Linked DNA regions of Homo sapiens. The protein of the gene in region 1 binds, or shares a complex with, the protein of each later gene. Links are inferred from orthologs where the notes say so. Each region holds a gene or a part of one and is shown on either strand. Other genes may lie near its edges.

Region 1 (7,018 bases):
AGCTTAAACTCCTGGCGGGCAACTGCTTCCTGACCTGCCCAAGACCTGGCACCCAAAATCCACCCAGGAAAAAGAGGACCCCAGAAGCATGCAGTTAGAAAATTAATGCTTCAGCAGGATGCGGAGGCTCACGCTGTCATCCTAGCACTGGGGGAGGCCGAGGTGGGCGGATCACCTGAGGTCAGGAGTTCGAGACCAGCCTGGCCAACATGGTGAAACCCCATCGCTGCTAAAAATACAAAAATTAGCCAGGTGTGGTGGCAGGCGCCTGTAGTCCCAGCTACTGGGGAGGCTGAGGCAGGAGAATTGCTTGAACCCGAGAGGTGGAGGTTGCAGGGAGCCGAGATCGTGCCACTGCACTCCAGCCTGGGTGACGGAGCGAGACTCCATCTCAAAAACAAAAAAAAAAGAAAAAAAAAAAGAAAAAGAAAATCAACGCTTTCCATGTCTCAAGAAGGTTTCAGAAAAGAGTAATTTACAGGGACAGAGTGGCCCTGCGGTATCACCCCAGGAAGGGGTTGGTGGAAGAACAGGAGGACTCCAGGACCCCCCCACGTCTACTCTGAATGGGAAACACCCCAAGGATGAAAGCTCTCACCCCCAATTCTAAGTTTCCAGAGTATCAACTGTACCCCAGCCTCGGGGCTTAGGGGAGAGAGGCAGGTGGGCCACGGGGCTAGGGAAGCCCTGGCTGCTGGCACCCTTACCAGGCCCGCGGACATTGACGTCCATGCAGTCGGCGTCAACCTCACCCTGGGGCGGTGTGGGGGCCATGGCAGACATGCGCAGGTCAGCGGCATCCAGGTGCTGCTGAGTCCACTGCCGGTGGTCTGTCTGGTCGTCCAGGTCAGGCAGAACCACGGGCTCCTCGAACTACATAGAGGGAGTGAGCAGAGCCTGTCAGGGCAGCCCGGCAGCAGGTGCCCGGGAGCCCAGGAGCCCGGGAGCCTCGCGACTCACCCGGAACTTCTTGGTCTCCAGGTCCTCGTCCCCCCACTCATTCTGGTTGTCGTCCATGAGGGCACCGTCTGAAGCGTTCTTCAGGGGCCTGGGGGGTGAGGGGTCGAGAAGTGAGGCTGAGCGAGCTCCCTAGGAAGCCCCCAGAGACCCCTGGCCCGGGCCTGGCGTGGGAGGTGGGCCCTGGGTCGGGAGGGGCAGACTCCCGGTGAGGATGCTCGGCCAGGTCCCACCTCCCACCGGGGACCCAGAAGCAGGGGCGGCGTCCGCTCACTTGAGGCCCACGGAGTCCTCGCCGAGGGGCTCCCGCCGCTTCTTCTTGCTGGCCTCAGACACTTTGAAGCCCTCAGGGAACCAGAGCTGGCCATGCTGCCGCCGGCGCTTGCGGGACAGCAGCACCCCGCAGCCCACGAAGAACAGAAGCACAAAGGCGGCCGCCGCCACGTACATGAAGTGCAGCTGCGCCGGCGGGGGCGGCTCCACGGTCTCACCTGCGGGCACGGGGGCCAGGGGCAGGTGCCCGGACATCAGGCAGCGGCTACGCAGCAGGCTGGTGGCCGGGGGGCGGCGGACTGGCTCCGCGTCCGGGCGCCTCCTCACCCACTCTCCTCCATCCCGCCCTCCAAAATAAGGTCATTTTCTACGCGATTAATCAGAATTGCAAACTATCGCTAAATTCTCTCCTGCACCAGCCGACTCTATCTGGAGACGGCTTTTACTTTTTTCTCCTTTAAGGAAGGAGGATTAGTCAACTTCAAATCGCTGCACTCGCACTGAGCTGTTAAGACAAAGGATTTAGAGGGATTTTCAAGATACAAACTTCAACACTTCACATGACACCGATCAATTCTTCTCTCTCTCTCTTTTTTTTTCTTTAAAAAAAGCCGTAATGATTTTGAAATAATACCCAACAAAGAAAATTCAGGAGGAAAGGGTGGGGAGAGAAGCAGGCACCCACTTTCCCGTGGCTGGACTCGTTCCCAGGTGGCTCCACCGGCAGCTGTGACCGCCGCAGGTGGGGGCGGAGTGCCATTCAGAAAATTCCAGAAAAGCCCTACCCCAACTCGGACGGCAACGCTCACACCCGTGGGTAGCAACTGGCACAAACAGCCAGCGTGTCTGGGGCACGGGGGGATGGCACCCCCTGCAGGCAGAGCCTGTTCCCGGGATGGGGCCACACTTACTCTGCACGGCCTCGATCTTGTAGGGGATGTTGAGGCTGCCCAGCGAGGCGAGCGCTCCCAGGAATGCGGCCACGTCGGTGGCACTCTGGAAGCACTGCGAGGAGGCCTGCACACACTGCCGGTTGTCAATCTCCAGGTAGACGATGGAGCTGGGCGGACAATCAGAGAGGGGCTGGGACCCGAGGCTTCCTCCTCCCCCGCCCACCGGCCAGGGATGCTGCCGCAGGACACTGAGGCCCATGACGCCACAGTCAGGACATGGTGAGGCAGCCTGGGGTGGTGGGAAGCCAGGTCTGACAGCAGCTACCCTGCAGGGGACTGGTGCCAGCCCCCCGACTCCGGCCAGTGCTGATCACGGCTCATCCCAGATACCCACCAACGCGCTCTCCCTGGCCCGCCCTGACACCCTCTCTGGCTCCTGCTGGTGCCACAGACACGTTTCCTCATCTCAGGACAGAGTATGTGCCAGGAGCCCAGTCCTCCCCCAGGAGCCATCCCCAGGCCCTGCAGGAAGCACAGGCGTGAGGTGGGGGTGGGTGCAGCGGTGGTGGGCTGTGTGGTGAGGCTGGCTGGGGGTGAGCTCTGCTCCCCAGGACTGGGTTCCCGTGAGCAGGATCCCATCCAGCCTGTGAGATGATGCTTCTGACCTCCAGGATTGCTCCAAGCCAGCAGAACTGACAGGCAAACCCACCAGGGTCAGGCACACGAAGGGCACAACCAACCTGGCTCCTGGGTCCAGCTGCCCCAGATCGAGTAGGCATGGGCGGGAGCCTTGTGGGGTGCCCCCTGCACTCAAGCTGCTCCTGCCTGTGTTCTCCCACCGTGGGACCCCCCACCCCCACCAGCTCCTCCTCCAACTGCAAGGCCCAGCAATGCCCCCTCCCAGGACCTCCACCTGCCTCCTCTCCAGCCCAAGCCAGGCAGACGCCATGACCAAGCGGCATTCTTGTCTGGGGTGGGGCTGTTCAGCCCTGTGGGAACCCCTGGAGAGCTGAGTGTTTTGTTTTTTACTTCTTTTAATACTTTTTTAAAAAAAACAGAGACAAGGTCTCCCTATGTTGCCCAGACTGGTCTCGAACTCCTGGGCTCAAGGGCTCCGCCTGCCTCAGCCTCCCAAAGTGCTGGGATTACAGGTGTGAGCCTCCTCGCCTGGCAGAGGGCTGAGTTTTAATCAGTGTAGTATCCAGTGCCTAAGGCACAGCTCAATCTCAAAATCACCTACTGGGCACAGGAGTGCCGCCTGTCCAGGGGAAGGCAGTGGCCCAGGAAAAGGGTGTGGCTGTGGGGTCAGGGCCCTGAGCTGGAATGCTGCCTCTACTCCTTGCCTGCGCAGGCCCTGAAGTCCCAGGTCCTCTCGGAACCTCCGTCTCTTTTACCATAAAGTGGGGAGAGTACTGCTTGCCATGGCGCCGGCCGTGAGGGGCAGGGAGGCCGTCGGGGAGGGCCCAGGAGAGTTGCGGGGATTGACCGTGGGCGCCGGGTCTCACTCACCCGCGGACGTCCATGGGGTCCAGCTCCCTCCGCCGCCGCCCACCCTCGCTGCCACCAGGGAGCAGCGAGGCCTTCACCTGGCCCAGCAGGGCGTCAGGTGCGGCCCAGCCCTCGGCGGCACGCTTGATGGGGTGCTTGCGCAGCTCCTCCTCGCGGCCGTAGTAGGGGAAGATCATCTGCTGGCCGTGTGCGTCACGCTTGAAGACCACGTTGGTGTGCAGCACGCGGCTGAGCTCCCGCAGGAAGTGGAAGGAGCTGTTGCGCAGCTGCTCCGGCGGCATCAGCACCACCACCACCAGCGTGCCGGCCGCCAGCCTCTCGGGTACATGCTCCGCACAGTCCAGCCCGTCCCACTCGCACTCCGCGCTGTTGCAGCCCTGGTCGCAGTGCCCGTCGCTGAAGTGGTCCTTGCAGTACTGGTCGTACAGGGGGCTGTGGGGGGCGGGACACGCTCAGGCCGCCTTCCTCGGGGGGCCTCGCACCCGCCGTCCGGTGCCTCCAGCCCACTGGCCAGCCGCGGGGGACGTCCCTGCACCCCCTGAGCAGAGCCTTAGAACTGCATGCTGGCCTCCGGGCCCAAGCCAGGCCACATCCAAGTTCAGGTCCTCCCTCAGCCCCATGAGCCCCGCAGCCTTACTTGCACTGGCCTTCCGCACGCTGGCAGTCAAAGCCGTCGAAGAGGCAGCCGGCTGAGTTGCACTGGCTGTCACAGTGGCCGTCACTGAAGTACTTCCAGCACTGCAGAGACTGCGTGCAGTTCTTCCAGGGGTCATTGAAGTTGAGGGAGCAGTCACCGCCGTCCCAGCCGCACGCGTGGTTGTTGCACTGCAGGCTGCAGACCTTGTTGCCCGCGTCCTCCTGGCACTCGGGCAGCTCGCACGCCTCCTCGATCAGCGGCGGGGGGATGTCGCGCCCGGCCCCACCCCCGAAGCTGTAGTCCAGGATGTGGCACAAGAGCCCGTTGAATTTGGCGGGGCACAGGCAACGGTAGAAGGGGCTCTCGGATGTGGGCTCACAGGTCCCCTGGTTGTAGCAGGGGTTGCCGCCCAGGCAGGGGCTGCTGGCCGGGAACTGGCATTCGGGGCCCGTGAAGGGGCCCAGGCACAGGCAGGTGGGGCTGCGCGGGCCGGAGATGCATGTGCCGCCGTTGAGGCAGCGCAGGCTGCCGCAGGTACGAGCGTCATTCTCACACGTGGCGCCCTCGAAGCCCTGCCCGAGAGGGAAGACAGGACGGTGTCGGGGTGGGCCACCCCCCGCCCCCCCGCCACCTCACACCCAGCCCTCGGCCAGCAGTGCCACCGCTCTCCTCTAACCTGGGAGGCGGCCTGCAACCTTGCCCCCAGCAGCAAAACCCTTTACACACATTCTACCAACAGAGAAAGATCGGGGGTGCCAGGGGGTCGGGAGATGGAGGAAGGGGTAAACTGGTGGAGTGCTGAGGACTTTAGGGCAGGGACTCTCTGCCGTGATCCTGCGAGGGTGGGCAGGCATGTCATACCTCAGCCCAAACCCACAACCACAAAGCCAAGGGCAAGCCCCAGGTACAGGAAGGGCTGCTGTTGGTAACAATGTATCACTGAAATCCAGAGTGAAATTGATGCAAGCTGCTAACCAGGGGAACTGCGTGCAGGGGACAGCCACCCCAGGGAGTCTACTTCCTGCTCCATTTTTCTATAAATCTAAAATGTCTCTAAAATCATTTATTGAAACTAAAAAAAAAAAAAAGACATCAGGGTGAGGAGGAGGATGAAGGCCGGGAGGATCACTGCCCGGTCTGCGCCCCGAGGCCCCCACGTGGACCTCTCCAGGTGTCTCCCCTGGCGGGCCCCTGCCTCCCTGCACCCCTGCACCTACCGCAGGGCACTTGCAGATGAACCCGCGGGCGGTGTTGGAGGCCACGGCGCAGGTGCCCCCATTCTTGCAGGGCTTGCCTTTGCAGCCATTGATGACGGACTCGCAGCGGCGCCCTAGGGGTAAGAGCAGGGCAGTGAGAGGCTCACCCTGCTGCCCCACACGCCCCACCCGCCTGGGCGCGGCACCCACCGGTGTGACCAGCACGGCACTCGCAGTGGAAGTCATTGACGCGCTGCACGCAGTTCTGGGTGCCACGGGCGTCGCAGGGATTGGACAGGCACTCGTTGACATCCCCCTCACAGCGCTCACCCACGAAGCCCGGCGGGCAGGTGCAGCTGTAGCCGCCCACCTGGTCCACGCAGGTGCCGTTGTTAAAGCACTTGGGGCTCCGGGACACGGGGTCAACGGGGGGATTGCAGTCGTCCACGTTGATCTCACAGTGCACACCTGCGGGGCCAGGTTTCGTCAGTGGCCCAAGCCCGCCACACCCCGGCCCTGCCGTGCCGCGTGTCCGTCCCGGAAGACGAGCGCTCAGGTCTGGGGCTGCACGGACACTCGGGAGAGGCAGGTGTCAAGGGTGCCGTGGAGACGCCCTTCCCACTGGGACCCCCGCTCTGGGCCCTTTCCCTGGGCAGCTGTGAGTCGGCCTTGGCCTCACACAGGAAAATGGGAGTTTCTGGCTGGTTCCTGGATGCCTCTGGCCGGTCCCGGGGTGCCTGCCCTGCCCCTGCCCTGGCCATGGATGGCCAACACCAGCCCTCCGTGCAGCGGCCCTTACCCTGAGTGCCCCGTGGGCAGGAGCACTTGTAGGTGTTGGGGAGGTCGAGGCAGGTGCCCCCGTTCTGGCAGGGGTGGGAGAGGCACTCGTCGATCTCCTCAGAGCAGTTCACCCCGTGGTAGCCGGCCACGCACTGTGCAGGCGACAGAACGAGGGGCCCTTCGGCTCAGCCGGCGCCAGGATGCAGTGCTCCCACACCCCACTGTGAGGGCTGACAGGGCCACATGAGCTGCCCTCAGGTCCAGCGAAGCCACGGGCCCCTCGCTCCTGTCAGACCTGGAGAGAGACCCAGCCCAACAGACCCTGGCGGGGCCTCGGTGACCGGAGTCACTGCCTGTTGGGGGTGGGTGGACCCCGTCCCATAGGATAGAGGTGAGGGCCTCAGGGTAGGTGTTGGCCAAGCCCAGACACAATCTAGGGGAAGGGAAAACCCCATCCCACTTCTCAGTATAGGTACCCTCCTTCAGGCTTTCCACAGGCCACCTCTTCCAGGCAGTCTACCCTGATTACCCCAGCCCTCCCCTAATGAGACTGAACAGTGCATGGGCCTATCAGGTTCAGTTTTCTCCACTGGGCCAGCTCCCAGCCAGGGCCTGGTGTGTGGCAACACTCGTGCCGGCCACAACCCTTACCCTAGGAGGGACCCCCACCTTGCAGGAGTAGCCGCCCAGGTAGTCCGTGCAGGTGGCCCCGTTCTGGCAGGGGCTGGGTGAGCACTCGTCCACCAGGTCCTCACAGTAGCTGCCTGTGTAGC
Region 2 (7,356 bases), on another chromosome or scaffold:
TGCCTGGCTACTTTTTGTATTTTTTTTTGGTAGAGACAGGGTTTCACCATGTTGGCCAGGCTGGTCTCGAACTCCTGACCTCAAGTGATCTGCCCTCCTCAGCCTCCCAAAATGCTGGGCTTATAGGCATGAGCCACCACACCGGCCATCCCTATTATTATTATCCCATTGCACAGATGAGAAAACTGAGTGTAGAGCTAGAGTTAGGTTACAAGCCCAAGACCACATGGTTAGGAAGTGCCAAGAAGCAGGTCCATGTCAGGCTTATTCACCAGACTCACCTGGAGGGTGGGGAGAGACTCGTTCCTCCTGCCTCCTCCCCATCTCTGCTCAGTCCCCCTGACCAAGATTCTTCAGAGTTCGGTGTCCCTCAGCGCCCATGCCCTACCCCTTCCTTCTCACCGGGGCCCTTCTTATCATCAGTCACTGCATCCTGTTCCTCCCTTGAAGCCCCCAGATGAGTTCTCAAGGCCACCACCAAGTCATCACCTTCCTCACTCCTCTCTCCAGTCTCAGGCCTGTTCTATGGGGAACCCACTCTGTCCCGCGGGAAAAACCCTCAGCAGGCGGTTCCTTGTGGGGGCTCCAGAGAGAGGTGAAGGAGGCCACGCGGGGCACCGCCTGCTGAGCGGGAATCCCGTCCCTAACCGCTGGCGCCCCTCGAGGGGAGGGGCGAGGGCGGAGGTGGTTCTGCTGCGGCATCTGTCCCAGGCGGGCGGGAAGCTGCTGCATTAAATTGTAAAATCGATTTATTGACCGGCAGGTGCGAGCAGCGGCAGATGGAGAGTAGCCCTGCCGGGGCGCATCTGCGGGGAGCGGCGGCATCGATCCCGGCCCCCCTCTGAAACCCGTCGGTCCTGGGCCTTTCTCGCCAGCTCACTCCCAATTGTAGGGCCAAGGTCCTTGAAACTGCGGCGCCTGAATGGCTAGGGTAGCTCGACTCCCTCCCCCAACACCCTCCTGGCCTCAGGCCCCGGGCTGCGCCCCCACGGCTGCCAGGCTCTGCCAGTCCCACTGCCCCAGTTGGCACGCGGCGGGCCGGGCTGACGCGTGGCAGCGCCCTGCGGCAGATGAGGCACGCGCCGGCCTCATTTCAATGTGAATGGATCGAATGGAGCAGCCATGTGGCAGCAACAGTTTGCAAATCTCCACGCCTTCTGTGCAGCTCCCCGGCCGCCGCTCCCTGCACGTGGCCCCTTCTCCGCAGCGACCGCAGCGGCGCCCCTCAAGGCTTAAGCGCCCCGCCCAAGCCAGGCCTGCTTCCCCGCCCCTGGTCTGCCCAGCAGGCACGGTGGCCCGGCCCCCACCGCGCTCCTACCCGGGTGCAGTGTGCCCCGCGAAGAGCGCCGTCCCCTGAGAGGGGGTTGGGGAGAGGAGAGGCAAAACCGCGCTGAAGGTCTCGGAGCTGCGCCTGCGGCCGTGGGGAGGGCACAGAGGCTACGCTGCGGGGGAGGAGTCCCGAGGCTCTACGAGGCTCCTGTTGCGCCCCAATAACCTGGGGTCAGCTTGGGGACACCGCTGGAAGGCGACCTTAGCGCTTCCCGGTCCTCAGTGCCGGTTCTTATGGCTGGAGGACTATGCGCAATGGCCAAGCGTAGGGGGACAGCAGAAGCAGAAGGCCTCTAGGGGCAGAGGCGGTGGGCCTTTCATGAAGCCAGGCCTCGACCCTGCGCCCGCTTCCGACGTTGGGGAGTGTTGAGGGTGCGGGTCGAATTGAGGAACCCTGGGCCTGCGGAGGGTCAGTGGTCTTTCGGACTCTGGGTCTATCTGTGCACCCTTTCCATGCTGTTGTGGAGGGTCTGCGTCAGGGGCGGGGGCAGCCGACTTCGATGGGGGTCCAGCCCCACGGTGATCGGTGGCCTCCCATCCCAGGACCACGCGTGTAGCGTTCTTCCGCCCGCAAGTCCGAAAGTCCCGAGTGGGAGAAGAAGGAAGGCGCAGCCCCAGTTTTGGGCTGACAGAAACACTTGCGGCCTTCGCACTGGGCTCCCCACCCGCAGCATGACCCTCTCCTGCTCAGCAAATGTGGGCAAAGCTCGACCGCAGCGTGTGGGAGCGCTCGTAGGTACCCAGGGCCAAGGGTGGCAGTGTCCTAGCCCGGGAATGAGCTTCTGGGACAGCGCCTCCGCAAATAGGTGTTTCATGAATGTCTTTTGATGCTGAGAATTTAACCCTTTCCTCTTCTGGTCAGAGCCTTTCTAGATCTCTGGGATCTCCTGGGTGCTGCCTCTCTGAAGATAATAATCCCAACTTTTGTTTGGTCCTTGATAATTTGCAAAGTACATTTGGGCACATTAGTCTGGGCGTGTATGAGGGTAGAGAGTGTTCCAGATTTTCCAGTATTGGGAGAGATGCCTTGTGTGGGACTAGATGTCTCCCTTGAGGGTCAGGTAAGCAGGACCAGCGCCAGAAAAGGAGGATGTTTTTATTAACTCCTGGGCCAGGATTTGGAGTTGAGAGAGGACAGGGCTAGGTAGGGCTGGATGCCAGCTTGGAGGGGAGCAAGGGGCACCCGCTGGCATCTTAGAGAGGCAAGTCCAGGGATCCATAGGGTATAGGCGGAGAGAAGATCTGGGAGCCCACTTGCCAGGATCGCCGGGAGGCACGCCCCGGACTCCCCCTCCCTCGGGCCTGGGACTCCGCCTGCCCATAACCTACATTAACTCCCGAGCGCAGCCTGGGCCCATCTGCCGCCCCGCCCCACCTCGGTTCCCCACGCCAACCCGCTCGCGCCAGATGGTGGCTGGGAGGGGTGGCCGTGCGTGGGGGACCCCGGAGCCCGTCTCCTCACCTCGCCCCTCCCCCAACCCACGCTCCCAACCTCTTGTTTCTCATCCTTCCCCCCCCCACCACACCCGTCCCCCAGTCCTCCACCACCACCACCCAACTCAAAAAAAAAAATCAGACCATGCTCGGCATTGGCAGCTGTTGGGCTTCTCGCCGCTCCCCCACCCTTACCGCCTCCCCCGGGTTCGCGCCGCGTCCCGGCTCCCCCCCCGCGCTGATCTTACCGCCCGACTACAGCCATCACCTCGCGGGCGGGCTGACAGCTGAAGCCACAGGGCCCCCGCTGCCCTCGGCGTCGCAAAGAGAGAGCTCCCCGGCACCCCTGAGACTGGGAGAAGCCGGCCCTCCCCGGTCTGCGGTCTCCGGGGATCACGCCGGGTTCCGAGAAAGCAGCTGCGCTGCTGCCGCTTGGAGGAGTGGGGCCACCCAGGGGACCCTCTCGGGCGAGACTTGGGAAGCCGCCTGAAACTCAAACAGCTCCGCAAGCCTCCAGTTCCACCCCACATCCCGCCTTATGAGGCGAGGACCCGGGCCGACCCGGCCTCAGTCCCTCACCTTGATTCTCCAGTGGCCTGAGCCAACTCTGGCGTCAGGAGAGTTCCTCCTTGCCCCAGCTGAGCGACAGGGCGCGGCCGGGGGCTTGGGGCTGCTGGGGTGGGGGGAGGCAGTGGGCGCAGGAACTGAAGCTGGACTCAGGTGAGGGGACGCGCTGGAGGCGGGGCCAGAACCTCATTACCATACAGCTGAGGACGCGCCCCCCTCCTACCTCCGGGACCACGCCCCGCCCTCCCCCACCTCAGGGACCGCGCGTCTGGGTCTCTGGCACGCGCCAAGCCCTGGCAGGGGGCAGAAGGGAGAAGGCACGCGCTGGGCACGCCCCCCCTTAGCTAGAGAGGGAGACGCCCAACAGGTGCACAGAGAGGGCCCCGAGCCTTAGACCCTTAGCCCCTAGCCTTGCTCAGAGTGGCCACAGAGAGGTTAACGCTTCTGCTGGCTTCCCTGCTGCGCTGGGGACGCGTGGTGGGTGGGCACTCATAGGTTGGGGGCCGTTGAGACAAGGGCTCCAGAAGCTCCAGGAAGGAAAAGGAGATCGGATTTCCCTAGCGCTGGTTTTTGCATTCCGGGCTTAAGTTCTTTTTACCTGCTTTGGAACACTAGGTAACTAGCGCCTGCTGCGGATGCACAGCCTACAGGGACTGCCTAGTGTCTCCGCCCCCAAGACCATCCCCGAACCACCCACTCACCTCCTGCCCCATTACCGGGCAACCCCTCTATCCTCCGGCGGCCAGGGTCTCAGCCCTTAACCCCGCCATCACGGAGGACTGGTCACCTCGGCACGCGCAGAGCTGGGGGACCTAGAGGTTGGGAGCGGCACGGAGGGGCGGGGACCTGCGCCCGACTGGCTGACGGGGAGGGGGGAGCGGCGGGGGCGGAGGCCCCCTCCGGGCGGCGCTGGGACTGTAGCAGCTAGAGGCCGGGAGGGGAGGGGAGAATGACCATGAGTCTGAGTGACAGGCGGCGAGGAGAGGAGCCAATATATATAAGGAAGGCCCCCAGCGCGCAGGTTTCAGTAGCGGCGCTGCGCGCAGGCCGGGAACACGAGGCCAAGAGCCGCAGCCCCAGCCGCCTTGGTGCAGCGTACACCGGCACTAGCCCGCTTGCAGCCCCAGGATTAGACAGAAGACGCGTCCTCGGCGCGGTCGCCGCCCAGCCGTAGTCACCTGGATTACCTACAGCGGCAGCTGCAGCGGAGCCAGCGAGAAGGCCAAAGGGGAGCAGCGTCCCGAGAGGAGCGCCTCTTTTCAGGGACCCCGCCGGCTGGCGGACGCGCGGGAAAGCGGCGTCGCGAACAGAGCCAGATTGAGGGCCCGCGGGTGGAGAGAGCGACGCCCGAGGGGATGGCGGCAGCGTCCCGGAGCGCCTCTGGCTGGGCGCTACTGCTGCTGGTGGCACTTTGGCAGCAGGTAACACGTCCCGCGCCCTCTCCGTCCCCTCTGCCGCGCTCTGGGCCTCAGCCCCGGGCACCAGCTGAGCTGACCGGTCCCCTCCCTCCTTCCCTCGGTCCCTGTGCAATAGCGCGCGGCCGGCTCCGGCGTCTTCCAGCTGCAGCTGCAGGAGTTCATCAACGAGCGCGGCGTACTGGCCAGTGGGCGGCCTTGCGAGCCCGGCTGCCGGACTTTCTTCCGCGTCTGCCTTAAGCACTTCCAGGCGGTCGTCTCGCCCGGACCCTGCACCTTCGGGACCGTCTCCACGCCGGTATTGGGCACCAACTCCTTCGCTGTCCGGGACGACAGTAGCGGCGGGGGGCGCAACCCTCTCCAACTGCCCTTCAATTTCACCTGGCCGGTGAGCACAGCCTGGGCGCACTGGGAGGTCGCAGAAGCCGAGAGAGGAGGCGCCCTGGGACCAAAGCCCCCTCCCCAGATTTCCTTGTACACACACCCCCACCCCCAAAAAGCCCAGGATGCATTCTTTCCTGGCTCTTCCCGACTCTCTCCTGAGACTGATCCCAGAAAAGGCTCTCACCAGTCTCCGTCTTCCCAGTTTATGTCCTCCCGTCCCCAGCTCTTGGGACACGATTTTCATTACCTACCACTCTGGGGCGGTACCCTACCACCCCCTCCTCCAGTGGCTCTCCCTTACACTCTCCCGTCTCTCAACCCTCCCTCTACCGGGGGTTCTCCTCTCGCCTTCCCTGCTCAAGCGCTACACTGTGCACAGCCCCGTTATGTTGACCCGGGCGCAGTAACTGAATCCTGCAATTAGATTAATTAAACAGGCTGCCGCAAGGCACCCCCACCTCTCCCCGCTTGCTCATCTCGCCATCTCTCCGTCCCCCCACCCCCTTTCCCAGGGTACCTTCTCGCTCATCATCGAAGCTTGGCACGCGCCAGGAGACGACCTGCGGCCAGGTGAGTAGCTCGCTCCGCCACCACAGGGGGGCGACACGGCGCAGCGCCGAAAGAGTTAATCTGTTCTAGGCGGGGGAAGTGCGGGCTTGGGGGTGGGAGGCAGGACGCTTAGCTTGGCCTGGAGCTGCGCCCCGCGCTGGACGCTCGGATTCCGCTCGCTGCCTGGACTCAGAGCACAATTGCGTTTCCTGCGGGTTATTTTTGGCGTGGGAACGCGGGGAGTACGGCGGTGAGAAAGGCTGAAGCTGCCAGCGCCGCTGACGGGCCCCTTCCTGTATTTTACACCTTTCGCGAATTCCGCTCCTTTGGAAAGGGAATAATGGCTTTGGGATGTTGTTCTGACACAGAGGAAAAGGATATTTCAGCAGCACAACAATTCTCACTTTGAAAAGGAAAAAAGAAAACCATTACCCACCTCTGGAGGCAGAACCCCTGAATGGGCACCAAAGGACCCCCTGCTCCCAGGGTCCTCTCTAGCCTGGGGAGCTTTTCTTTCTTTTTCTCTTTTTTCCATTTTGACCTCTTTTCCTCTTTCCCCTCCCTATCTGCCTCCAAGACCCTGGGATATCTTAACATCCTTCTATTGTCCCCTTTTTGAATACTATCAGGCCCCCTGCACATGCACACACGTAGGGCAGCTACGTAGCGGGGCTTTGGGTCCCTCTGGCCTGTTCTTGCTGGCAGGCGGGGGTCATCTGGATAACTGGGCTGATTGGTTGGCTGATCACCATCATCACAGCCAAGAAGGACATTGGCCAGCCGTCACTGGCACCCTTGGGGACTGGCGACCCTTCCCTGACCCGACCCTCTGCCCCCTCAGAGGCCTTGCCACCAGATGCACTCATCAGCAAGATCGCCATCCAGGGCTCCCTAGCTGTGGGTCAGAACTGGTTATTGGATGAGCAAACCAGCACCCTCACAAGGCTGCGCTACTCTTACCGGGTCATCTGCAGTGACAACTACTATGGAGACAACTGCTCCCGCCTGTGCAAGAAGCGCAATGACCACTTCGGCCACTATGTGTGCCAGCCAGATGGCAACTTGTCCTGCCTGCCCGGTTGGACTGGGGAATATTGCCAACAGCGTAAGCAGTCAAGCTCCCACCTGTGTGGAAGGGGAGGGTCCCCTGAGGAAACACAGTGGAGCTTCTTGGTCACAGCTTGCCTCCCTTGAAGAGTGGGTCTGGGCCTCCTACTAGCTGGGCCTCAGGGATGCTGAGGGTGGGCTTGACCTCAGACCTCCTGTCTCTTCCCAGTGCTCCTCCCATCATGCCAAAGCCCACAAGAACCCCATCATGACATTCCATCCAGTTTGGCTTCTCCTTCCCTGTGCCATTATTTCACTTTAAGACACTCGGGGCTCCTCTGGGAGGCCAGGAGTAGGAAGAGGGCCCAGGAGAGCTAGGGGATCCCCAGGGCCAGCAGGTGAGAATGGGGCTTAAGAGTCCTTGGTATCCCAGCCTCACCCAGCTCTGTGTTCTTCCCTTAGCTATCTGTCTTTCGGGCTGTCATGAACAGAATGGCTACTGCAGCAAGCCAGCAGAGTGCCTGTGAGTAGGGGACAGGAAGTGGTGAGTGGGAGCCCTCCCTTGGCCAAGGCCTCTCACCTCACTCTGCCTCTCTCTTGTTCCCCAGCTGCCGCCCAGGCTGGCAGGGCC

Evidence for each region.
Region 2: the proteins of NOTCH1 (region 1) and DLL4 are in contact, whole or in part, in a crystal structure (PDB 4XLW), measured with the Rattus norvegicus proteins. The link is inferred for Homo sapiens from one-to-one orthologs. Residues at the interface, in NP_001099191.1 of Rattus norvegicus: Glu415, Leu418, Ala420, Asn421, Pro422, Glu424, His425, Phe436, Pro447, Arg448, Glu450, Ile451, Asp452, Leu468, Asp469, Gln470, Ile471, Ile477; in XP_006234827.1 of Rattus norvegicus: His65, Thr76, Phe77, Asn109, Phe110, Thr111, Pro113, Tyr180, Ser186, Arg187, Leu188, Lys190, Arg192, His195, Phe196, Tyr199, Lys216, Tyr217, Asp219.

Annotation. Positions count from the first base shown.
Region 1 is NC_000009.12:136,501,041-136,508,058, forward strand, and holds part of NOTCH1 (neurogenic locus notch homolog protein 1 preproprotein), read right to left. Parts: coding exon 6,915-7,018; intron 6,398-6,914; coding exon 6,265-6,397; intron 5,934-6,264; coding exon 5,676-5,933; intron 5,600-5,675; coding exon 5,487-5,599; intron 4,842-5,486; coding exon 4,270-4,841; intron 4,065-4,269; coding exon 3,633-4,064; intron 2,291-3,632; coding exon 2,142-2,290; intron 1,449-2,141; coding exon 1,232-1,448; intron 1,049-1,231; coding exon 961-1,048; intron 874-960; coding exon 708-873; intron 1-707. UniProt on the Homo sapiens protein: Functions as a receptor for membrane-bound ligands Jagged-1 (JAG1), Jagged-2 (JAG2) and Delta-1 (DLL1) to regulate cell-fate determination.
Region 2 is NC_000015.10:40,924,984-40,932,339, forward strand, and holds the start of DLL4 (delta-like protein 4 precursor), read left to right. Parts: upstream 1-4,356; 5' UTR 4,357-4,685; coding exon 4,686-4,751; intron 4,752-4,863; coding exon 4,864-5,133; intron 5,134-5,641; coding exon 5,642-5,699; intron 5,700-6,519; coding exon 6,520-6,783; intron 6,784-7,187; coding exon 7,188-7,248; intron 7,249-7,333; coding exon 7,334-7,356. UniProt on the Homo sapiens protein: Involved in the Notch signaling pathway as Notch ligand. Activates NOTCH1 and NOTCH4. Involved in angiogenesis; negatively regulates endothelial cell proliferation and migration and angiogenic sprouting. Essential for retinal progenitor proliferation.